4 linked regions of the Homo sapiens genome follow. The protein of the gene in region 1 interacts with the protein of each later gene in a pairwise test. Each region holds a gene or a part of one and is shown in the gene's direction. Other genes may lie near its edges.

Region 1 (6,971 bases):
TAGCACTGTGCCCAGCACTTAGTAGGTGCTCAGTAAACATTTGTTGAATCAGTGCACTCATGACTTGAATCTGACTTTACAGATGATAACTCGAGCTGGGTTTACCAGCTAACATCATGTAAGGGGTACTGGGACATTAAACTAAGTGGGTGTTACTTTTGATTTTGAAATTTTCTTTTTGTGGTTTGGAGAGTCTCATTTTTCCATTAGGTTTCAAACATTCTCATAGACCGTAGACTCAAGAGACTCATGGAGCATAATGGATAAAGCGGGGCTGCCCATAGACATGGACCCAGGACCACCACACCTGGCCTCCCTGGGCCAGGGGTTCCCCTTGGGGCCCTAGATAGCATCAGAGGCCTCTGGCTGCAAAGGAGCAGGGCCCATCCTTTATCCCATCCTTTATCCAGGAGCAGGCCTGGTGTTCCTCCCGTCTCCTATCCACCTGGTCGGCCTGTACCGTGCCTTGGGGAATGCCCTCTTTTAGGTGCCCGGGTATGATCCCAAGTGGATCTGTATTTCCACTTGTGGCCTTGACTTCCCCAGCAGCACCCTCAGCCTCCCCGCTTGCCCCTCTAGTCTGTTGTCCATACAGCAGCCAGAGTGGGAGGGGCCAGCTTCCCAGGTATGCATCCAGTGCAGCCACTCAAGGCGAGAGCTCAGAAGGGCTGTGTGCTTGGGCTTCAGTGCTCTGGTCACCATCTTGAAACAATCATTTTAGCATTGAATTTGTGCTTTGTGAGTGAAGTCTGATGGGAAAATGGCGCCTTCACTGGGAATTCGGAAGCTGGTTTGTGTGTGTCCCATGTCCCACTGCCTCCCCAGCACAGGCTCTTGGCTGCCCACTCCCAGGCTCCCAGTGTCCCCACCTCTGCCCCACCATGGCTGCCCCCCTTCATCTGGAGGCCTGAATGCAGGCTCAAGGAGGACTGGGGACTGCTGGATTGGCCCCTGGCATCTTAGGGTGTGACAGAGTGGTGGCTCTCCCCTCCCTGGGCTGAAACTTAGCATAGGCTTCTCCCCGACCCCCAATCCAGGTATTGAGCGTGTCCTAAAATGACTGTGGCAATCTGGAGGGGCTGCCTGTTGGCCATGTGTGGAGGCAATGTGCCATTAGAAGAGGCAATGGACTTTCTTGCCTCTGGTGGGGGCTTTGCAGTTACATTTTTCACCAAATCCACAAATTGTATAGCTAGCCTGGCCAGGCACCATGGCTTATGCCTGTAATCCTAGGACTTTGGGAGGCCGAGATAAGCAGATCACTTTGAGCTCAGGAGTTTAAGAACAGCCTGGGCAACATGATGAAACCCCGTCTCTACAAAAAAATACAAAAAGTATCTGGGCATGGTGGTGTGCACCTGGGGTCCCAGCTACTGGAGAGGCTGAGTCTGGAGAATTGCTTGAACCCAGGAGGCAGAGGTTGCAGTGAGCTGAGATCACACCACTGTACTCCAGCCTGGGTGACAGAGTAAAACCCTATCTCAACAACAACAACAACAACAACAAAATTGGCCAGGCGTGGTGGCTGACACCTGTAATCCCAGCACTTTGGGAGGCCAAGGCAGGCAGATCACCTGAGGTCGGGAGTTCAAGACCAGCCTAACTAACATGGAGAAACCCCGTCTCTACTAAAAATTCAAAAATTAGCCAGATGTCATGGCACATGCCTCTAATCCCAGCTACTCAGGAGGCTGAGGCAGGAGAATCGCGTGAACCTGGGAGGCGGAGGTTGCAGTGAGCCGAGATCATGCCATTGCACTCCAGCCTGAGCAAGAGCGAAACTCCATCTCAAATAATAATAATAATAACAATAATTAATAAATAAAATTATATAGCCAGCCCTAAGAGTGAGGCTTCTACCATACATGTTTGCCCTGCGGGATCCCTCCTGAGATACTGACTGGTGAAGTCCCTATCCCCTCCTTTGGCCCCTGAGGGCCTGCATGACCCAGGCCTGCTCTGCCCTTCACCTTGGTGCACCCATCTTTGCATCAAATATTCCTGCCAGGCCAGCCGGACCTCCTTTGTTCCCCAGAATGGGTTCTGTGTCCCCTCTCCTCTGGGCCCTGTACCTGTGGTTTGCCCTGCCTTGACAACCTTTTTCTACCTCCTTGCTTATCAGGACAGCCTGACACCCCTCCTCACCCTCCCCGCATCCAGGTTCTCACCCAGATCATAGCAATGCCTTTTAATTGTCCAGTTGGGATCTTGGGGAGGATGGAGCTTTGTCTCTCTTGTTTCCAGCTGTACTGCAGTGTGAGACACAGTACCTGGTGCTCAGTAAGTATCATTAAGTGAAGACTGATTGTCCCATCTGCTTCCTCACATCTTTGCCTGGTGATGAGCAAATGGAAGCTCAGAGAGGGCAGTGACTCACCAGCATTTCATGCTGGGATGGAGGCAGGTTTAGAGCTTGAATCTGAGTCCAGCGCCCACGCTTTCTCTCCTGCAAGGATGAAAGGCTACAGGGGTTGAGAAAACCCTCCCTTCTGCCCTGAAGGCAGAGCTGTGGCACGGCTCAGGCTTGCTTCCTCATCCCCTGAGTGTGAGGCTTTGCTGCCAACACACAGGGGCTTGTCCCACCTGGGGCAGGAGGAGGCAGAGTCTATGGCACTGCTTCTCTGAATCTGATTGATTCAGCCCCACAATCTCAGGCCCTCCAGACACCAAAATGAACAAGATCCAGCCCCAGCTTCAGGGGTGTCTCCACCTGCTGAAGGTGGTCTCTGCTGAACTTTTCTAGGTTCTGAATCCCACCTCACCCCAACCCTTCTGCATCCTAGCTCATAGGATGTACGAATGACTCCCGTGCCTGGACTAGTGGCTTTACATAGGTAATGGTGGCTCCTCAGAGCACAGAGAGGTGCAGTGGAGTCCCAGAGCCCCTGAGCCGAGAATCAAGCCCAGATCTGCCTGGCTCTGAAGCCTGGGCTGCGCCAAGCCTATCACATATCCCAGCCCTCAACTGTCCAAGAACAAGACCGCACCCAGTTGGGAGGGGTGAGGAAAGGAGGCTCTAGGGAGGCCACAGCACCTGCACTGGGCCTAAGAGGGTGTCCCAGGAGGGATGAGAAGGAGCAGAGCAGCCAAGCCAGGGTGCAGAGGCAGGGAAGAGTGGGGCGAGAGAAGGGTGGAAGGAAGGTTCAGCCCAGTCCGCAGGCCGGAGAGTTTGGATTTTGATCTGATGGTAGTAGGGAGACACAAAAGGTGTTTGCGCAGTGTGAGGTCATCTGTGCTTGGGGAGCCTATGCTGGCTGTGCACTGGGGAGTGGAAGGGAGGCAAGGAGCCCAGTCAAGAGGCCATTAGAAGGTCCAGAGGTGGCTCATAGTTTTGATAGATTTCATCCTGCTCAAGTTTGAGGCAGAGTGAAAGCTATTGGGAGGGAAATACACCAGAGGACACGGAGGGCCCATGAGTGCTGAAGAAGGCTGCAGCTGGGTTGGGCGTCGATGACATAAACCTGAGAGAGAGCAGGAGGATGTGCAGGGCCATGTGAAGTAGGGTCTGCATTTGGGGGCTCTGTACATAGTAGGTACTCAGTAACTGTTCATTGGATGAATGGATGAATAACTCCTTGTCTCTGGGTCAGCTCTGGTCTTACCCTCTCCTGTTTCTCACACCTCTTCTCTTTGCCCACCCTGTCCTGTGGCCCTGGGGAGACCTCAGCTGGCCCAGTAGAGGCAGTGCTGGCCCATGGTTCTGCCGGAGGCGCCTCCATGTTTGCGGGTGCACCGCACGCCTTCTCCCTCTCTGTCCCCCTCCCCCTCCCTGTCCTTATCTTTCCCTTCTGTCTCCATGGCGACTCACCACCTCGGCTTGCCTGCATCCCAGCCTCTGCCAGGGATTCTGAGCCGGGCTCCATCCCTCCCTCCTCGGAGCCCTGCTACCCGCAGCCGTGTCTCCTCCCCCTGGGGTGAGTCCAGCAGCAGCCTCCTCTTTCCTGACTGTCACATTTCTTTTCCAGCTCTGACCGGGAGTCAGCTCCTCGGGGATACCATCCCCCGACCTCACCTTCTACCTACCGCAGCCTGCTAGCCTTTCCGGGAGAAAAGGCATCCTTACCTCTGGTTGAAGGTCTCGGGGCCTCCCCCTCTGCATCCGGACCCTCTCCCCATCCCAGCCTCCCATGCCAAGGCCCGCCTTGTCAGTCACTTCCTTTTGTCATCGGCTTGGCAAACGGGCAAGTCTTCAGTCCTAAGATCGGGAAGGAGAGTGGGGTGGGAAGGGCCCTCCTTGGGCTGGGGGATGGGCCGGGGGTGGGGAGGATGAGGGGTCCCTGGAAATCCAGGGTGAAGATAGAAGTCTGGATTATGTTCTAAATCTTTTTTTTTTTTTTTTTTCTCCAAGGAGAGAAAACAGAGCTTCATGGGAAACAGCGGCAACAGTTGGTAAGTAGCAGGGCCTTCCAGGCTGGGATGGGTGCAGTGAGGCCAGGCAGGTCAGTTGAAATGGCCGGTCCTGGAACACAGAGCCCGGCAGCCCAGCCGGGAGGGCTGTCCGCCTGAGGCTGGATCCGCCAGGCTGTGGAGGGAGGGACAGGAAGAAGCAGGTGGGTGCTGCAGGGAGGCAGATGCCAGCTCAGAGCAGAGAGCGGAAGGAATCTTCTAAGATCCAGAGCCATCTGCCCAACTGCAGCACAGGCTGATGGCTTCTCCTCACTGTCCCTGTAGCATGGGGTTGTGGAGGGTATCATCCCTGGGGGCCTGGCTGAAGTCAGCACCTCATGGAGGGAGCCCCGCTGTAGAACGCCGGGAGAGGCTCTTCCCAAGCATTTGCACCAGGCACTGTGCAGACAGCTGCACACGCCTCCTCTCGGATGGCCACCCCAACGGCCCCATGAGGGGTATTGCTATCCTCTCCATTGGGACAGTTAGGAAATTGAGGCCCAGAGAGGGGAAGGAACTTGCTTGCATTTGCATGGCTGGGATGTGGTGGAGTCCATTCCACTCAGATTTTCTCCCTCTCAGACTCTCTCACCATTGCTCTGCTGCCCCCACTCTGAGGCCCCCAGGTCCTAGGACACATGTCAGTGAGGAACGGGCAGAGCTTGGCCTCTCTGGGAGCAGCTCCGCCTGTCCATGGAGGCACTGATGGAAATTGGGTTGGCACAAAGGGACCTCCACTCCCAAGCCATCAGTCTTCCACCACAACCCTGGCCGGTACCCCCTGCCCCCAATAGACATCCTGCTTTTCAATGGCCTGTTTTGCCCCACAGGTCCCATACACCTTTCCCCAAGTTGGAGCTAGGCCTGGGGCCCCAGCCCATGGCGCCCCGGGAGCTCCCTACCTGCTCCATCTGCCTGGAGAGGTTGCGCGACCCCATCTCGCTGGACTGTGGCCACGACTTCTGCATACGGTGCTTCAGCACACACCGTCTCCCGGGCTGTGAGCCGCCCTGCTGTCCTGAGTGCCGGAAGATATGCAAGCAGAAGAGGGGCCTCCGGAGCCTGGGCGAGAAGATGAAGCTCCTGCCGCAGCGGCCGCTGCCCCCTGCACTGCAGGTCTGGGGACTGGGCCTAATCAGTCAGACCCAAGAGGAGGGGGTGGCTTTGGCCCTATTCTAGAACATCAGGACACAGAGCTCCAGGCTGAACACATTCCAGGGTCAGGAGCTGGTCCTGGATGCTCAGGGGCCCCTCTCTTCTCCTGGCCCAGGAGACGTGTCCTGTGAGGGCGGAGCCGCTGCTGCTGGTTCGCATCAATGCCTCTGGGGGCCTCATCCTTAGGATGGGGGCCATCAACCGCTGCCTGAAGCACCCTCTGGCCAGGGACACCCCAGTCTGCCTCCTCGCTGTCCTGGGGGAGCAGCACTCAGGGAAGTCCTTCCTCCTCAACCATTTGCTTCAGGGCTTGCCGGGCCTGGTGAGGGCGGGGCGGGGCAGGAGGGAGGCGGGGAGCAAGGATGGGGGTTCCTGCCTGGGGGAAGCTGGGTCTGGTATTCCGGTCTGTGGGGACAAGGAACCGACCAACTGATGCTCTCCCTTCTCTCCCCTGCAGGAGTCTGGTGAGGGCGGCCGGCCAAGAGGAGGAGAGGCATCCCTGCAGGGCTGCAGGTGGGGCGCCAATGGCCTCGCCAGGGGCATATGGATGTGGAGCCACCCCTTCTTGCTGGGGAAAGAAGGGAAGAAGGTGAGGGGGGAAGTGGCAGAAGGAGGTCAGGGATGGGAAGGGGAATCAAGAAGGGCGTCTCTGGGGTGAGGATAGAAGATGGGGATGGGACGGGGCAGGGTTGGGAAGAATGTGGGAGAACAAGGCAGGCCTGGCCCCTTGGGTCTTTCCCTACCCCCTGCATAGGTGGCGGTGTTCCTGGTGGACACAGGGGATGCCATGAGCCCTGAGCTGAGCAGGGAAACAAGGATCAAGCTCTGTGCTCTCACCACGATGCTGAGCTCCTACCAGGTGATGGGGGGCGCTGATGTTGGCATCCCCACCCCACACACCCTTCTCCAGCTCAGCTTCCTCAAGGCCAGAGCATCTCACAGGCTTTGGTGTCTGGGGTCCTGATAGGTTCTGGGGCTGCCTTAGAAGGGGGAAGGTGCTCCTAGTTGGTGAAGGTGGGAACGTGGGTTATTCCTAAAAGTGGGCTGATGGTCCCAGGGGCAGCTGAAGACCTGATGGATCACATTACCCTCCAGGCTTGTCTCCGGCCTTGAGGCCAGCCCAGCCCTGCAGCCTTCGAGGCCCCCATACTGGCCTCTCCCATACTCTGAGGCCCACAGGCTGCCTGCGAGCTCCCTACTCACCAGGGCCTTCCCCAGTGAAGTCACCCGGCCTCTGTAATCTCTCATACATGTTGTTCTCTCTGATTCCAGATCCTCAGCACCTCCCAGGAGCTGAAGGATACAGACCTGGACTATCTGGAGGTAAAGAGACCTCTGATGTTGGGGCATCCCCCACCCCCACCCTCCCCACTAGGGCTGGACCCAAAGGAACTAGGTGCCCTCCTGGTCTGGCCTAGGGTTTTATGACA
Region 2 (6,500 bases), on another chromosome or scaffold:
ACCTTTGCCCCGTGGAGCTCAAGGTGCACCAGGGAGACAGGCCTGGAGCACCTGCTGCTAACAACAAGCAAAATTACAAAACAAAACTTTAAAAACCAGGTTGAGGAGGCAGAGGTGCGGGGACCTGGGAGGGCCTTGTCAGAAATGTGGCTGTCACATGGAGCCCAGGGGAGAGGGGAGGAGGTGAAGGAAGGCTCTGTGCAGGGGCTGCGTGCGGGAAGGCCCAGAGGACCAAGAACATTCTCAGGATGGAAAGGAGAGGAGGAGAGGGTGGAGACATGGGTGGGGGTCAGGCAGGATGAGCGTCAGCTGAGGATGCATTTTGGCTGGACTGCAGACAGTTCAAGGAGAATCTGCACTGGAGAGATCTATTTTCAAGGCTGGGTATGCAGGCAGCACCAGGACACGGGCAGCCACGTGATGCATCACGCAGCGGGGCTGCTTCCGGGAGCCAAAGGGGATGCTGTTCACAATTACCTGGGTCCCAGGCACAAGCCAGGGCTGTCCTGGCAAATGGGCCACCTTGCCAGTGGATCCGTGCCAGCTGCTTCGGTAACCATGGTGGTCTCCAATAATTATCCTGTGAATTGTGTGGCTCAAGTGGAGCAGACCTGGGTTACAGCTACCCTGACATCCCTCAGCGCCAGGAACTCAGGTCCATGTCACAGCCCTATTCTTTGTGTTTTAATCCAATGTGGATTCACCTGATGTTTACTGAGCCCAGACTGCCAGTGGTTTATTTTATTTTATTTTATATTTTATTTTTTTTTGAGACGGAGTCTCGCTCTGTCACCCAGGCTGTGTGTTCTCAGCTTGCTGCAACCTCCACCTCCCGAGTTCAACCGATTCTCCTGCCTCAGCCTCCTGAATAGCTGGGACTACAGGCACCCACCACCACGCCTGGCTAATTTTTGTATTTTTAGTAGAGATGGATTTTCACCATGTTGGCCAGGCTGGTCTCAAACTCCTCATGTAATCCCTCATGCTGGGATTACAGGCATGAGCCATAGCACCCAGCCAGTGTTTGTATTTTCACAGGTGAGACATAAAGGCTCAGAGAGGGCAGGCACTTGACCAAAGTCACACAGCTGATAGATGGCTGAGCTGGGATTTGACCCAGGGTCTTGTGCCTCACAGCTGTTACCCCACCCTTCCTGTCTCCCTTGGATTTCAGGTGACAAGTGTCCTAGGTTCCTGATCACAAACTCAGGGTGGAGACAGGACAGCTTTGTCAGTCCTTTATTCTCTCTAGAGGAGGTGCTCAGTATATCACAGCAGTGGCTGATGTCGGGTGCTTGCCACAGCTCAGCACTGCTCTAATAACTCATCCTAACCACACCAAGCCTTGCTGAGACCTCTGAGCAATCCCACCAGGAGATACAGTGAGGTCCAGCCACTCAGGCCACACAGCGAACAGGAGGCAGGGCTGGTATGGGTGCAGGTGCCAACCCCGACTGTGCCGCCTCTCGGCTAAGCACCTGTGCAGTGACTGAGTGGGCTCGCAAACAGAGGGCTCTGCAGGTGGAGCACCCCAGGCAAGTCCCCACCATCAGCCCCATTCTGCAGGCGCGGCCCCGGGGCCAGGGATGGGAGGGTCTTGCCGGGCATCCAGCGAGGAGACTGCATATTCCCTGCCCAATCTGGCTTCACGGCGGCGGAACTGACGCCACGTCCCAGGGCGTTCGGGGCTGCCAGGCCTGGTGAGCACCGCGGACATCTCAGATGGCCGTTCTGCAGGTTGAGGCCCTCGGTGCCAGCGTCCCCGTGGGCAGTTCTGTGGCTTCCCTGGCCCATGTCGTCCTCTTGGCAGTGGCCACATCACAGCACCAGGTGGGATCAAAGGGGAGGGCAGCTCCCCAGGTGGACCTGAGCTTCTCACACTCTGACAAGCCCTCGCCTGCTGATCCAAGACACAGTGGCCTTTGAAATTCGATTTCCTTCCCCAGGTGAAAGAGGAGAACAGATTCTACACAGGGTCGGACTCAGTTCCCTTTTGATGTCTGTGGTGGCAGAGGGTGGGGAGGGACAGGAACTCACACAGGAGGGCAATCGTCCCGATCTGACGGGGGCGGGATGGATGAGAAAAGCTGGGAAAGGAGGAATCCGGCCCAGAGAACAATGCTGGCAAAAACGCGTCCTGGCCAACAGGTGCCAGGTTTCGTCTCTGGGCAGAACTGTCCCATGCTCTTTGTCTGCACGGGAGGAGGGGGCGGCAGCTGGTGTAAGTGCCACGCCAAGCTTTGCCCAGTCCCTTTGTTCTGCCATAGAGTAAAGATTGCCTTTCTTCCCCACCAGCCAGATGAAATCCCCAGGCCCACAGCAGCTTCACAAACAGCGGGGAGCCTGGAGGGGCAAGGGTGGCCAGGGCGTCATGTCCCGGCCCCTGACCTGCTGGGATCTGAGCTGCTGCCGGGGGAGCTTTGCTCTCTCCAGCCCCAGCTCCTCCAAGCTGCTGCTGTTCTTCCTCCTATGGCTGAGGCTCCACGGTCACCAGCTCCAAGAGCAGCAACCCAGCGAGGGGCTTAAAGCTGGCAGTGGGGACTCAGAGGGTGCCTGCCCTGCCCCTCCCATGCGATGGCAGGCCGTAGGGTTGCCGTGAGAGGCTGGAGGTTGTCGCGGCCTCTAGTCACGGTCCTGTCTTATAGAGTCCCTGCTCCCCTCAGAGCCACGTTGGAGAAATGACTGGTGGACGGTGCGGGGCTGCAGTGGAAAGGGCCTCCCTTGCAGTCCTTGGCTCCAGGCTCTCGCTGGAGGTCATGGGGACAGCTTCCAGACAATGGCCGGGACGCTGGGTGCACTCAGGCTGTGCCACCGATGCTGTGGCCACCACGGGGCATCCCCTTGCCTGCTCTGAGACTCAGTTTCTGTACCCATAAAATGGGCACAATAACACCCCATCCGCTTGTCCCGTTTCATTTTTCCTCACAGCATCATCAGTACCTGATACGAATTTCCTGGTTGACTCACTCACTCACTGCCTGTCTCTCCTGCCAATGGTGGCAATTCCTTGAGGGCAGGGACTCGGTTCCCCAGAGCATGCCTGGCACGGTGCAGTGAACAGACGAGTGGACGCAGTGTACACGTGGGTGCGGCGAAAGCTGCTGGATGGCAGCGTCTGCGTGGCATGGCCCGGGGCTGACGGGTCTCCTCCAACTTGCAGGGGGGCTTCGGGATCCTGGAGGAGATGTGTGTCAACTACGTGCACTACTACCCCCAGACGCAGCTGGAGCTCTGCAAGAGCGCTGTGGACGCCGGCTTCCTGCAGAAGTACTTCCACCTCATCAACAGGTGAGGGCTCCCTGCACAAGCTCCCTGCCCCCAGGGAACCCCGACACAGAACCTCGGGCCTGTTAGGCGGCTGGGCAGATTGGAGGAGTCCAGGCTAAGTTCTAGGAGCAGAGACCTGTGGCGGCATCACTCACCCCTCCCCTCACTCGTTTCCTGCTGAGTCTGGATTTGGCTTCAGAGCCTCCTCAACCCAGCCTGCAGCAGCCATTACCCACCCGCCAAGGTGACAGGAGAGGTGAGGCCGTTGCCGGTGAAGGCAGCATCTGGGGTGGCCTGGCGGAGGCAGCGGGGCTGGGGAGGAGGTGGCAGGACGGTTGCCCCAGGGACAGGACTCGAGTTGCAGGGAGGTGTTGCTGGTGCCCACTGGGCTCCCTGCCCGTCAGCTGCTCCCCAGCCTGGCTGTTCCTTGTCCCCACCAGGTTCAACAACGAGGATGTCTGCACCTGCCCTCAGGCGTCCGTGTCTCAGCAGTTCACCTCTGTTCCCTGGAACTCCTTCAACCGCGACGTACTGAAGGCCCTGTACAGCTTCGCGCCCATCTCCATGCACTGCAACAAGTCCTCAGCCGTCCGCTTCCAGGTGCGCTGCCATGGGCCCGGGTGGGGCATGCAGTCAGGCAGGCCTCATGGGGGGCCCCAGTGAGGGGTGATGGGTCTGCACTCCAAACTGCTGGCAAAAGCACTCGCACAAGACAATGAGAGCAAGTGCCAGGTGGTGACACATAGGCCTAGACAGCCAGCCAGCCAGCAGAGAGAGAGGAGAGAGGAGAGAGAGGAGAGAGAGGAGAGAGAGGAGAGAGAGGAGAGAGGGAGAGGGAGAGAGGGAGAGGGAGAGAGGAGAGAGAGAGGAGAGAGAGAGAGAGAGAGAGGGAGAGAGAGAGAACCAATAACGAGGCAAGGAAGGGAGGGCAGGCACCCTCTCTGGTGACACCTCCACACTGTACCGAATGCCAAATGCAGGTGGTGTGAGCAGGGCGCACTAACCTGCCTAAAAATAAAGCACCAGGGGAGGGGAAGGTAAGAAACGAACCAGTCTGAAGCTGCGAGCTGGTTTTTTCCTCCTTATCTGAGACCCACTGGTATTCGAAGGCATCTAATTTATCCTGGGCCCACTGGGCTGTGGTCAGGAGGCCAGGGCCTATGCAGAGTTAGTCGCGTAAGGTGCCGCAGCCTGGAGATCCAGGAAGATCCTTCCCAGAAGCATTTGGGAGCCAGATTAACTGCTAAGTCAAACATCCTCAGCACCAAGGGAAGGAAGGGCTAATACTGGCTTGCTGAGAATAGTGTGGGGTGGACGTCTGATGGGGTTGAAAACTTGGCATTTGGTGTAGCCTTGAGGGGAAGAGATAGCTAAAAAATATCAGAGCCTGCAGCCAGGGGCTCTGGTTGCTACACTAGGGTGAATGATTAAATTGGGTGGGGACAGAGGCGGGGAGAGGCCTGGATGACTCCCAGGTTCCTGACTAGGTGAATGGGAAGCCAGGGGAGGGGGCATTTACTGAGGTGAGGACCCCCAAAAAGCAACTTGGGGGAGCAGAGTGAGTTCAGTTTGAGACAAGCTGAGTTTGAGGGCAAGAATCCAAGAGGTGGCTGGGAAGTGGCTGGGGAAGCAGCCACCCATCTTGCCCCTCCAGCCTCAGTTTACCTCCTGCCCCCTTCCTTGCAGGGTGAATGGAACCTGCAGCCCCTGCCCAAGGTCATCTCCACACTGGAAGAGCCCACCCCACAGTGCCCCACCAGCCAGGGCCGAAGCCCTGCTGGCCCCACCGTTGTCAGCATTGGTGGGGGCAAAGGCTGAGGGGGGACCTACTCCTCCCCCTCCTCCATGCTGTCCCTGTGGGCTCACACCGGCACTGTGCACTCTACTCTGCGACGATCCCCATGGAACAGCCCTGCACGCCCAGGATGAAGGGGCCAGACCACGCCCCTGCCTGAGACCACGGTCCAATCCAGCCTTCTTCCCCCAGGGTCCCCTGCATGGCTGAGAGGGTGTGGGTGCCCTGTTGACCTACCCTGGACCGAGTGGACCACGACCTCGTCCATTTAAACCCGGCTGACTCAGTGCAGGGACAGCCTGCACAGTGGTCCAGGGTCCAGCCCTCCGCCAGCCCTGTTCCGCCTCACTGGGTGTGGCCTGGCTTCTGGGACAGGCACCATGCTGGGCCGGGGTGTGGAATCACCGGGAACGCCCCCGCCCCCGCCCCGCTGCTCCCGGTGTGCAGCGGGTGCGGGTGCCGCTTAAACATTTCCCTGCTGAGTGGCTCGTGTTTCACAGTGGGCGGCTTCCCTGCGACGGAGGCAGGACCAGGCATTTAGCTAGTTAGAGACTCGCCTGGGAAATTGCTCCATTCCTGAGTAAACAGATATTTTCGCCCACCTAAAGGGAAGCCCTGACAACAACTATCACCAAAAGACGAGGCGGCAAAGATCCAGCGGGGCTTCTGGGCGCCGGTTCCACGTGGGGTGGAATTATTAGCACCAGCTTGCTTCTCTGCCGGTGGGGCCAGCGCTGAACAGACCGGGGTGGAGTCAGGGCTGTGCTTTCCGCGTGGTTCTGCCACTTAGGGAGTGTGCCTTGGGCGGGCCATTTCACATTCCTGACCCTCACTTTTCTCATCTGTAAAACCAGGCTGATGCCGTGCGGGCTAATGAGCCAATAAAGCTCACACTTGGGCTGGCACCCACTGGAGGTGGGTATGTTTGCACTCCGGGCCGTCGCTCCAGGAGAGAGAAGCTTGCTCCTGAGCCTCCTCCCTGTGCCAGGCGTGGTACCAAGTGCTTCCCCCTGAGCGTCCTGAAGCTGCCTCAGCTGGCCTGGGTGGGTCTCCCCTTCCTGCCCTCTGAGCTGCCTCTCAGGGACAAGTTCAGCTCTTTGATGGTTTCTGGAGACAGTAACAGATGCACTTGTGTTCAGCCACTTCAGCAAAACGCTGCCCAGCCTCATGGGGAGAGAGGGAGATGGATGGGCCTCGGAGTCCCCTCGCATCAGCTAAGCGGCTGCTGCTTCTGCAAGGCACTTCACTTCATCACAGAAGGGAAGTCACGAGCCCAGGAGCTCTGCCTCACGTTGTATAAATCACAGCTTCTTGTGGTCCATAAGTCACGGCGCTAGCGCTGTGAAATGCCAGGCCCCAGCCTGGAGAGCCACTCCGGCCCTCTGTCATCTTTACAGCCTAGGTGACAGTAGACACGGAGCAGGCCCAAGAAGCCTCT
Region 3 (3,940 bases), on another chromosome or scaffold:
GGGTAGAGATTCAGGTATGGAGATGTCAGTGTCTAACTTTCTTCTAGTCTTTGCAATTTCACAAGGAAAATCACTAAAATGTGCGTCTCTTCATTTAAAAGAAAAAAAAGTTCATGCCAAAGCTGCTGGGACAAAGAGGACTCATGATAGTGGGTTATTCCACACTGTTGACACACTGAATGTATGCTGGCAGAAGGGCCTCAGGTGGAATGCTGGGCATGGGTTTGCCCCACAGCAGTCTGATTCAAAAGCACCTGAGAGATGGGAGGAGTACTAGGGTTACTAAACACAAGAAGGTGTTTCAGGAGAAACACATCAAGCCATTTGTTTTTGACCCTTAATACTTAACATGAATGATGAGTTGCAGAACAGTCAGTCTTTCCAAGATGTATTGTTCTATCCTCAATAGCTGCAGCCTCTCCAAGCCAGTGGGCTGGTGACATCCAGGATGATCCTCTTCCTTGCCTGGAGGTGGGATCTAGTGCCACAGCTTGTTCGGGGAAGCTGGCATAGAAGATGATTTGCTCAACAAAGTCACCGCTAAACTATCGCTTAGGTCTAGTCCCCGGCCTATGGCACCAAGTACTCCTGGTAGTACTTGTACACAGAATTTCTCTATAATAACCAGAACATGTCATCCATGGTAATGTCTGCTACATATCCAACCACAGCATCAAATTCTGTCTGATGAAGGGCACCAGCCCCTTCATCTTTATCATGCCTAATATTGTGAAGGCCATGTGCTAAATCCAGCAATCCGCTCCAGTAGGTGTCCTTCAGGATACTTTTCTGTCAAGTAAATACATTTATTAAAAATAGGCATGTAGCCGGGCGCAGTGGCTCACACCTGTAATCGCAGTACTTTAGGAGGCTGAGGCGGGCGAATCACGAGGTCAGGAGTTCGAGACCAGCCTGGCCAACACGGTGAAACCCCATCTCTACTAAAAATACAAAAAATTAGCTGGGCATGGTGGCGTGTGCCTGTAATCCCAGATACTCAGGAGGCTGAGGCAGGAGAATTGCTTGAACCCAGGAGGCAGAGGTGGCAGTGAGCCGAGATCGTGCGATCGTGCTATTGCACTCCAGCCTGGGCGACAGTGTGCGACTGCATCTCAAAAAAAAAAAAAAAAAAAAGGCATGTAAAAGTTAATCTCATGGAGGTAGAGAGTAGAATGACAATTACTAGAGGCTGGGCAGGGTGTGTATGTGGGATGAAGAGGTGGCTTGATGGACACAAACATAGATAGAAGGAGTGAGTTCTAATGCTTGATAGCAGAATAGGGTGACCATTGTTAACACTGTATTGGGTGTTTCAAAATAGACGGAATAAAGGATTTGAAATGTTCTCAACACATAGAAATGAGAAATACTCAAGGTCATGGGTATCCTGGATACCCTGAGTTGATCACTACACATTCTATGCATGTAATGAAATGTCACATCTACTTCAATAATATGTACAAATATTATTTATCAAAAAGCAGGCATGTAGGTGAGTTGATTTTCTTCCATGTCTTCAAACTCCTGGTAATACTTGTCCACAAAATTTCTCTATAATAACCGGAACATGTCATCCATGATAATGTGTACTATATATCCAACCACAACATCAAATTCTGTATCAGAGGCAGAAGAGAAGGACAGCATGAAGCTCGATTCCTCCAACTGTCCTTTGGCTGGTGGCCCTCCACCCTGCCCACAGCCCGGCCAGCTCAGCCCCGTCTCTGTCCCATACAGAGCCACAGCCACAGTGAGAGCCTGGCAGCCTGCCCGGAGGAGGCTTCTTGGCCCAGCCCGGTCAACACCCACATGCACCACCACCAACTTTTTGCTATTGTGAATAACATAGCTGTAAACAGATTGCATATGAAAGTGCTGTGAAATCACCAAGGGCTGAGTAGAACAGTTAAGACGATAGTAGTTGTTTTCTTTCTGGGTTTTTCTCTTGGGCTGGTTTTTGAAAGTGGATCTACAACATTGATAGAGATCAGTTTTTCTGCTCTTCCAACATACTGCCAGGACGTGGTCCAGAAAGATTGGGTACTTTGCAATACTCATAGCAATATGTGAAGTGATTGGAAAAAATGAGACTATTCAACCAGTTGTTTCAGTGTTGGTTAGGAGGAAAATGCCCAGAAAGGGGAACAGTTAATCATCTACACAATACCAAGAGCAGGAGGGGATGACCGACGGCTTCATCTTTCCTAGTCTATCCCACACAGACCTTTAGGTGCTCTTTTTTTTCTTTTTTTCGCTCTGTCGCCCATGCTGGAGTGCAATGGCGCGATCTCGGCTCACCACAACTTCCACCTCCCAGGTTCAAGCGATTCTCCTGCCTTAGCCTCCTGAGTAGCTGGGATTACAGGCATGCACCACCACGCCTGGCTAATTTTTGTATTTTTAGTAGAGACGGGGTTTCTCCATGTTGGTCTGGCTGGTCTCGAACTCCCAACCTCAGGTGGTCCACCTGCCTCAGCCTTCCAAAGCGTTGGGATTACAGGCATGAGCCATCGCACCCGCCTCTTTAGGTGTTCTTTTAGGAGCTGGTAGCGGAGGAAGGTGGTTACCCATCTGTGACAGAGCCTTGGATGTCACGAGGCCACAGGCTGGCCTTTCCTCCTGTTTACAGGAGGTGAGTTTTCCTGAGTTCCCAGCCTCAGTGTTCTCTGCACAGTCTGTCACTGACTCCCGCTCCCAGTGCTCACTGCCTCTTGTTCTCACTGCCTCCTGTTCTCACTGCCTCCTGTTTCTGCTGAGTTCTTTGCATCTGCCTGATGTTGGTTTAAAGCTCCACCCCTCCCAGGGGAATTTGTCCCATGATTCACCTCCTCTTTGGTGATCTCTTGATTGCGGCTGCTGCAGCCATGTAAACCTTAAAGGCGAGCCAATTTGTTTGTGATCCAGTGGCCAAAATGGTTCACCCTCAACTTCCCTTAATCCCCTGCAGCATCTGAGACACATGGGTGAATGTATGTAAGGTACTTGGGGCTAACCAAAGTTAAATACATATGACAAGTACCTGAATCTAGATAATCTAATGGTAAGATATCGTTTGCTCTCTGGACTTCATGGGCTCACCCCAGCAATGGGGTGCCTGGAAATGAAGAGATCTTTCTTGTGTCTCATCCTCTGGGCTCCCAGCCTCCCTCAACATCATGACCTCCATCTGTAACACCCACCATCCTGGAGCAGCATCCTGGATATTGGAACTCTGAAGTCTAACCTAAGAGAACAAGGACAAGCCTCTCTATGAAAGGTTTGCCCTTCCAGATCCAGTTGAGCTCTGCTCTGGAGCCAGACTCTCTGAAGCATAGCCCAGCTCTAGCTCTTACCAGTTATGTGATCAGGAATGAGAGTTAATGTTTCTATGTTTCTGATTCTTCATTTGTAAAATGAGGATAATAAAAATTTAACTTCAGAGGTTTGTTGTGAGGAATAAAAGCCATTAGCACAGTGTTTGGCATATAGAAAGTGCTCAGTGTTGGGGAATATTGAACAGATAATGAATATCGCCAAGAGTCTTTTCCTGGGTGATTGATAGAAATTATCTTACCTCCTGCTCTAATGAATGTGGCTCAACTATTTAGGCCATAACTGTAATTATATTTGGTTATATGGCCCCACAGCATTAAAATTCATACAAGAAGAACTTCACTCACACATAGTAACTGGAATGCAGTAGATGTGGATAATTTCTTTAAAAAGCCTAAATCATATGGGTGGTTGTTTTTTCATAAACAGCCTAGGCTTAACTTCAGTTTCTCATCTACAAAAAGGGGACTGTACTAGGGTTCTCCAGAGAAACAGAACCAATAGGTGGTATCTTGAGAGTTATAAGGAATTGGCTCATGCAATTATAGGGGCTGGGAAACCCAGGACCTGCAGTGGTTATGCTGGAGACCCAGAAGAGCTGAAGATGTGGTTCCAGTCTGTCTGAAGC
Region 4 (7,364 bases), on another chromosome or scaffold:
GGCTGGTACTACAGGTGTGCCACGCTCAGCTAATTTTCTGGGGTTTTTGTTTGTTTGTTTGTTTTCTGGTTTTCGTTTTTGTGTTTGTTTCTTTGTTTGAGATGGAGTTTCACTCGTGTTGCCCAAGCTGGAGTGCAATGACGCTATCTCGGCTCACTGCAACCTCCACCTCCCGGGTTCAAGCGATTCTCCTGCCCCGGCCTCCTGAGTAGCTGGGATTACAGGCATGTGCCACCACGCCCAGCTAATTTTTTTTTTTTTTTTTTTGGTACTTTTAGTAGAGACGGGTTTTTAACATGTTAGCCAGACTGGTCTGGAGCTCCTGACCTCAGGTGATCCACCTGCCTCAGCCTCTCAAAGTGCTGGGATTACAGGCGTGACCCACTTCCCCTAGCCAGTTTGAACAATTTAATCCAAGATTTTAAAACTCAAACATTTTACTTAGCTGTTCAAATATGGCTATTATTTAACAAATCATTTAATTTATATATATGGGGAAAACTATTCCTTAGATCATTTTGAAAATTGTGTTTCAAAACTTGTCTGCAAGGTTACTTTCAATACGTAAGTAACCAAGCACATTACTGGAAGTGGGGGGAAGCTAATTTTGAAGTAATCTTCAAAAGGTCAACTTTAATAAGAAATGAATAAATGCCTAATACCAAAGGGGAAAGAACTTTTCATTCTTGTGATAATGTTTACATTCCATTAATGTTCTGCTTCAATTGTTCTAAAATATTTTTATTTTAATAACATAATTATTAAAGATGCCTACTTAGGGAATTTTCCAATAATCCAAATAGCTATTTGAAAGAAAACTAGTAACATTCATCAAATTACCTCTTTACCTACGGAGAAATTATTATGTTAATTCTCCGTGGGATCTTAAATGAAAAATGTTAAACCCAGCATCCCTCTAATTTTAAAAAGGCAGATAACAATTGTGAGCATTTAAGAATTTCCTTCATCTGTCGGTAAAAAGCATCAGTTTGGGCCGGGTGCGGTGGTTTACGCCTGTAATCCCAGCACTTTGGGAGGTTGAGGCGGGCGGATCACTTGAGGTCATGAGTTCGAGACCAGCCTGGCCAAAATGGTGAAACTGGCTCTACTAAAAATACAAAAAATTAGCTGAGCTTGATGGCGCGCCTGTAATCCCAGCTACTCAGGAGGCTGAGTCAGGAGAATCTCTTGAACCCGGAAGGCAGAGGTCGCAGTGAGCCGAGATCACGCCCTGCACTCCAGCCTGGGAAACAGAGTCAGACTCCGTCTCAAAAAAAAAAAAAAAAGAAAAGAAAAGCATAAATTTAAATACATCTAAATATCTAAGTACATCCTTGTATAAATGCCTTGGGGGAGAGATGGCAGGAATTTTCACATGGTTGTGAAATTAGGGCATTTTAAAGGAACAGTAAAAACACAGGTGTAAGTAGCTTCATCTCATTCGAATTTCTTTATTGGTCATGAAAACCAATCACCGTCAGCGCGGGTAAAGGTCCTGATCTTTTTTTTTTTTTATTTTTTCACCCAGGCTGGAGTGCAGTGGCACGACCTCGGCTCACTGCAAGCTCCGCCTCCCGGGTTCACGCCATTCTCCTGCCTCAGCCTCCCGAGCAGCTGGGACAACAGGCGACCGCCACCACCCTGCTAACTTTTTTGTATTTTTAGTAGAGACCGGGCTTCACCGTGTTAACCAAGATGGTCTCGATCTCCTGACCTCCTAATCTGCCTGCCTCGGCCTCCCAAAGTGCTGGGATTACAGGCGTGAGCCACCGCGCCCGGCCAAGGTCCGATTTTTTAATAAACAAGGGAAGGGTGATGAACTGAATTCACAGCTTCAGTTTTTTTTCTCCTGGCAGCAGTGCCCACATTTCACCAGGCGAGGGCAGAAAGGAGAGACCGCCTCGCCGGTCCACATCCAGAAAGGGGCGTTCCCAAGGGCAGAAAGAGGCCGACCCTCCACCTGCACCCGCCCCAGGCCCTGCGCTTGCGTTCAAACCGTGACAAACCGTAGAGTCCTTGAGAGCCCCGGGTTACTCCTACATGGTCATATTCCCGCGCGGGATGCCGAAGTGGGGCAGATGAGGTCCGGAGCTGCTGAGGGATCCCGGGTCCTTCTGTTGGTCTGAGACCCTGGGGCGGGCGGAATCCCGGAGAAAGCCGGAGGGACTCCCCAGTGGAAGCCTGGGAGCTGCCGTTCTCCTCCCTGCCTGTGCAAACAGGAAGGGGCTGGTGATGCTGGCTGCGGGCCTCCCTCCTGGACTGCGACATTGTCACCAAATTCTATAAAGACGTCATGCAGGAAGTGATAACGTGTGCTGCGACGTTCTGGAAGTAACTCGAAGCTAAAAAAGAACAAAAAATCAATGAAAAAATGAAACTAAAGAAACAATGAGATGCTATGTCAATATCCGTAGTTATGGAATGGAAAATAAATCTTACAAAGAGATGCTGGAGTTATCTAAGAAATTTACACCATACTGGCCTGTGTGCATCAGACTTTTCTGGAGGTCATTTATTTTATTCACTTTTTTTTTTTTTATGACCAACCGAACTTTCTAATATTTTGGGCTGGAGTCCCACTAAATGAAATACCCCTTTTGAATGGCACATATGACTTTTAGGGATGCATCTTAGCATTTTTATTTTTTTATTTTTATTTTCAAAACTTCATTGATGTTTTGGAGTTTTGTTTGTTTTTTGTTTTTGTGTTTTTTGGACATGGCCTCACTCTGTCGCCCAGGCTGGAGTGCAGAGGCACGATCTGGGCTCACTGCAACTTCAAACTCCCGGGCTCAGGTGATCCTCCTGCAGCAGGACGAGCCGCAGACAAAACTCAGACACCGGATTAAAGAAGGGCTGTATTAGGCCGGGAACTTCGGCAGACTTGCAACCGAGGTCCCTGAAAAAGAAATTCTTGGCCCTTTTAAGGGCTTGTAACTCTAAGGGTCTACGTGAAAGTTTAGTGAGAGATCGAGCAAGCGTGGGGAACATGACTGGGGGCTACAGGCAACAGCTAACAGAACAGAAAGTTTTGCAATGCTTCCTCATACAATGTCTGGAATTTTTATTTATTTAATTTATTGATTTATTTTTTATTTTTTTTGAGACGGAGTCTTGCTCTGTCGCCCAGGCTGGAGTGCGGTGGCGCCATCTCGCTCACTGCAAGGTCCGCCTCCTGGGTTTACACCGTTCTCCTGCCTCAGCCTCCTGAGTAGCTGGGACTACAGGCGCCCGCCACGACGCCCGGCTAATTTTTTTGTAGATCAGGTGTTCTCACTATGTTACCCAGGCTGCTTTCGATCTATAGCGATCCTGAGCTCAAGCGATCCTCCTGCCTCGGCCTCCCAAAGTGTTGGAGTTACGGGCGTGAGCCACCGCACCCGGCTAAAAACCTGTTTGTTTGTTTGTTTGTTTGTTTAGAGACGGAGTCTTGCCCTGTCACCCAGGCTGGAATGCAGTGGCGCCATCTCGCTGACTGCATCCTCCGCCTCCCGGTTGCAAGTGATTCTCTTGCCTCAGCCTCCCCAGTAGCTGGGATTACAGGCGTGCGCCACAACACTCAGCTAATTTTTGTATCTTTAGTAGAGACGGGTTTTCACCAAGTTGGCCAGGCTGGTCTCGAACTCCTGACCCCGTGATCCGCCTGCCTTGGCCTCCCAAAGTGCTGGGATTACAGGCGTGAGCCACCGCGCCCGGCAAACTTTTTGTTTAAATCGGAGATTTTATTCTTTCAGCTGTCAGTGGAAGGAGCAGTCACGTAGGGTTAAACAGATGGAAGCCATGACGTTAGGAGAGTGAGTGAGGTCCCAGCCCAGCCACTTGTCACTGTGTGACCTCGGCCTGGTCACTGGGCCCCCGAGCTTCGGTGCGGCAGGGAGGGTCCTGGTGATGGAACAGAAACAGGGTGCGGGGCAGGGGTAATGACTCACGCCTGTAGTCCCAGCACTTTGGGAGGTCGAGACGGGAGGCGGGGGGAGTTTGAGACCCACCTGGGCAACGTAGCGAGACCCCATCTCTACAAAAAATAAAAATTAGCCCAAGAGTTCAAGGCTGCAGTGAGCTATGATCGCGCACTGCACTCCAGCCTGGGCGACAGAGCAAGATCTTGTTTCTTTTTAAAAAGAAAGAAAATAAAGGACGGAAGGATCATGGTGTGGGGAGGACTTCAGCCCCGGGCGGTTGCCCGGCGCGCGGACTCTAGCGGACTAGGGCTCCCCAGCAGCCCGGCCCGCGAGCTGGCACCGCCCGGAATCCCGCTTACGTCCAGTCCGGGGCGGCGCCTGGAGGCGGAGCCGCCCGCTGGGCTAAATGGGGCAGAGGCCGGGAGGGGTGGGGGTTCCCCGCGCCGCAGCCATGGAGCAGCTTCGCGCCGCCGCCCGTCTGCAGATTGTTCTGGGCCACCTCGGCCGCCCCTCGGCCGGGGCTGTCGTATCCTTTGGGCTGCGCGGGGCTCGGGCTGGATCCGGCGCCGGCGCCGCCGCCTGAGTGGTGGCCCTGGTCCGGGTGGAGGCCTCGGGGTCGCACGCTTCGCAGCCCCAGCGCCTCCTCGCTCAGCGCCGCGTCCCCGCCTGGGTCGCGTCTCTTCCAGGAGCCGGGGAGCGGGGAAGAGGCTGCGTCCCCCGAGGACACGCGCGGCCGCCCTGGGGTCGGGGCAATTGCCGCGTTGCCCTGCCCTCCGGGATCCCTGGGGGCCTCTGCTCCTCTCTTTGTGGAGACGTCGTTTCACCGGCGGCGCGTGACCCCGGCAGCTGTCCAGAGACCCAGAGATGTCCAATCACAGGCGCACGGTGCACAGGCGCGCAGGGCTGCCTGGAACCGGCCCAGGCAGGCAGTGACCGGGACCTCTCCGGAGGGGAGAGGACGGTGCCCTCCCGGGCAGGAGCTGGCCAGGCAGGCGCTGCCCAGGGCGGCCTCCCTGCTGGACTACGGCATTGCCACTGAGTTATATAAAGACACTATTTGGGGAAGGACAGCGGGTGAGGACTGGCGCGGCGGCACACGCCTTGCCTGTTGTCTCGGCTCTTCTGGGGGCCAAGGCCAGGAGTCCAGGGTTACAGTGAGCCGTGATGGCCAGTGCGTTCCAAAAGAGAGAAACAGAGAGAAAGAAAGGATAACATGTTAATTGATGAGAGTGACATTCCGAAAGTAACCGATTAAGCTAAAGAAACAATGCAATTCTATGTCAACTCTCTGCAGTTACCGGATAGAAAGGAGATCTTTAAAAGGAATTTCTAGGGTTTTGCTTTTTTGGTTTTTTTTTTTTTTTGAAACAGGGCCTCACTCTGTCACCCAGGCTGGAGTGCAGTAGTGGTACGATCTCGGCTCACTCCTGGGCTCAAGAGATCCTTCCACCTCAGCCTCCTAAGTAGTTGGGACTACAGGGTTGCGCCACGATGCCAGGCGAATTTATGTTGTTGTTGTTATTGTTGTTATTATTATTATTATTATTATTATTATTATTATTATTATTATTTTTGAGACGGAGTCTTGCTCTGTGGTCAGGCTGGAGTGCAGTGCCGCACTCTGCAATGTCGGCCCACTGCAACCTCCGCCTCCCAGGTTCAAGCCATTCCCCTGCCTCAGCCTCCCAAGTGTAATTTGTATTATTATTATTAGTAGTAGTAGTAGTAGCAGTAGTAGTAGTAGTAGTAGTAGTAGTAGTAGTAGTAGTAGTAGTGGTGGTAGTTTTTTTTCTGAGATGGAGTCTCTCTCTGTTGCCCAGGCTGGAATGCAGTGGCCTGATCTCAGCTCACTGCAATCTCCACCTCCCAGGTTCAAGCAATTCTCCTGTCTTAGCCTCTCCAGTAGCTGGGATTACAAATGAACGCCACCACGCCTGGCTAATTTTTGTATTTTTAGTAGAGATGGGGTTTCACCATATTGGTCAGGCTGGTCTCGAAATCCCGACCTCAGGTGATCCATCCGCCTCGGCCTCCCAAAGTGCTAGGATTACAAACGTGAGCCACCGCCCCCGGCCTAATTTGTATTTTTAGTAGAGATGGGGTTTCACCATGTTGGCCAGGCTGGTCTCGAACTCCTGAGCTCAAGTAATCCTCCTGCCTCAGCCTCCCAAAGTGCTGGAATTACAGGCATGAGCCACCGTGCCTGGCCTTCTATATTTTACTTTATTTGCCTTAATTCACATCCTAGGTAGCTCATCCCACTTCAGGGACTATTTCCTCTGCCAGTTTCCATCCTCAACAATTCCAGTAAGTAGTTTGAGTTTTGATTTTGAAATATATTATGTATATAAAAGTTTCTTGAGTGGTAATGAAGATATACCACATAATATGTTACCTGATTAGAATTTTATTATACAAATCCTCTGTTTCCAGGACTTATTCTAATTAGTGCACTTGTGGAAAATTTTGGAGACCGACTAATTTTCTGTATGTATTTTAAGATTCAGAAAGAAGGAAAAATACCAGAAAATACATAATCCGACATTTATTTATTTATTTTTAATAGAGACGGGCCCTTCCTATGTTGCCCAGGCTGGTGTTGAACTCCTGGGCTAAAGCAATCCTCCTGCCTTGGCCTCCCAAAGTGCTGGGATTGCAGCCTGAGCCATCACACCAGCCTTATAATCTGACTTTTAAAAATTCAGTTAAACATCTCATTTAAATTAACTTGTGGCCGGGCACCGTGGCTCATGCCTGTAATCCCAGCACTTTGGGAGGCCAAGGCAGGTGGATCACTTGAGGTCAGGAGTTCGAGACCAGCCTGGCCAACATCTCTACAAACCCCACCTCTACAAAATGAAAAAATACAAAAATTAGCTGGGCATGGTGGTGTGCACCTATAATCCCAGCTACTCAGGAGGCTGAAGTGGGAGAATCGCTTGAACCTTGGAAGTCAAGGTTGCAGTGAGCTGAGATCACGCCACTGAACTCCAGCCTGGGTGATAGAGCCAGACTCCATCTCAAAAAACAAAACAAAACAAAACAAATTAGCTTGTATTTGGTTATATGGACATATTAGCTAGCATCTTTGGTTTATCTTAAATCACCTTTAAAGGGGAAGATCTTGACCTTCCTAAATATTCTCATACAACCACAATTCCGATCTTAAGGAATAGGTTGGGTGATTTGAGTTTATGGGTATGCTGTACATTTATTTGGATTTTGTTACTTTACCTTCTTGGAATGCATCAACTGGACAGTTAAAAATATACAATTTATTGAATTTGTTTCCCATCTGAAAAATCATATGTATTCATTACAGAAACATCAGAGAAATAGAAGGAATTTTAAAAAATCATCCCTAATTCCATTTCTAAAGGCAATCACTGTTAAAAATTGCTTTGGTGTATTTCTTTGCAGGCTTTTCTTTTTTTCATATAGTGTCTTGGTTTTACATAATTG

What was found.
Region 2: the proteins of RNF112 (region 1) and DBH interact in binary tests that used the Homo sapiens proteins (3 or more experiments, as listed by UniProt).
Region 3: the proteins of RNF112 (region 1) and PEX26 interact in binary tests that used the Homo sapiens proteins (3 or more experiments, as listed by UniProt).
Region 4: the proteins of RNF112 (region 1) and PHYH interact in binary tests that used the Homo sapiens proteins (3 or more experiments, as listed by UniProt).

Annotation. Positions count from the first base shown.
Region 1 is NC_000017.11:19,407,282-19,414,252, forward strand, and holds the start of RNF112 (RING finger protein 112), read left to right. Parts: upstream 1-3,950; 5' UTR 3,951-4,127; coding exon 4,128-4,181; intron 4,182-4,189; exon of another isoform or gene 4,190-4,218; intron 4,219-4,348; coding exon 4,349-4,389; intron 4,390-5,216; coding exon 5,217-5,502; intron 5,503-5,656; coding exon 5,657-5,863; intron 5,864-5,998; coding exon 5,999-6,130; intron 6,131-6,295; coding exon 6,296-6,400; intron 6,401-6,813; coding exon 6,814-6,864; intron 6,865-6,971. UniProt on the Homo sapiens protein: E3 ubiquitin-protein ligase that plays an important role in neuronal differentiation, including neurogenesis and gliogenesis, during brain development.
Region 2 is NC_000009.12:133,653,363-133,659,862, forward strand, and holds the end of DBH (dopamine beta-hydroxylase precursor), read left to right. Parts: intron 1-1,224; exon of another isoform or gene 1,225-3,160; coding exon 3,161-3,288; intron 3,289-3,707; coding exon 3,708-3,867; exon of another isoform or gene 3,868-4,046; intron 4,047-4,953; coding exon 4,954-5,085; 3' UTR 5,086-5,967; downstream 5,968-6,500. UniProt on the Homo sapiens protein: Catalyzes the hydroxylation of dopamine to noradrenaline (also known as norepinephrine), and is thus vital for regulation of these neurotransmitters.
Region 3 is NC_000022.11:18,101,979-18,105,918, forward strand, and holds the end of PEX26 (peroxisome assembly protein 26), read left to right. Parts: 3' UTR 1-3,418; downstream 3,419-3,940. UniProt on the Homo sapiens protein: Peroxisomal docking factor that anchors PEX1 and PEX6 to peroxisome membranes. PEX26 is therefore required for the formation of the PEX1-PEX6 AAA ATPase complex, a complex that mediates the extraction of the PEX5 receptor from peroxisomal membrane.
Region 4 is NC_000010.11:13,297,032-13,304,395, reverse strand, and holds the start of PHYH (phytanoyl-CoA dioxygenase, peroxisomal isoform a precursor), read left to right. Parts: upstream 1-4,331; 5' UTR 4,332-4,353; coding exon 4,354-4,428; intron 4,429-4,632; exon of another isoform or gene 4,633-4,976; intron 4,977-6,150; coding exon 6,151-6,209; intron 6,210-7,364. UniProt on the Homo sapiens protein: Catalyzes the 2-hydroxylation of not only racemic phytanoyl-CoA and the isomers of 3-methylhexadecanoyl-CoA, but also a variety of other mono-branched 3-methylacyl-CoA esters (with a chain length of at least seven carbon atoms) and straight-chain acyl-CoA esters (with a chain length longer than four carbon atoms).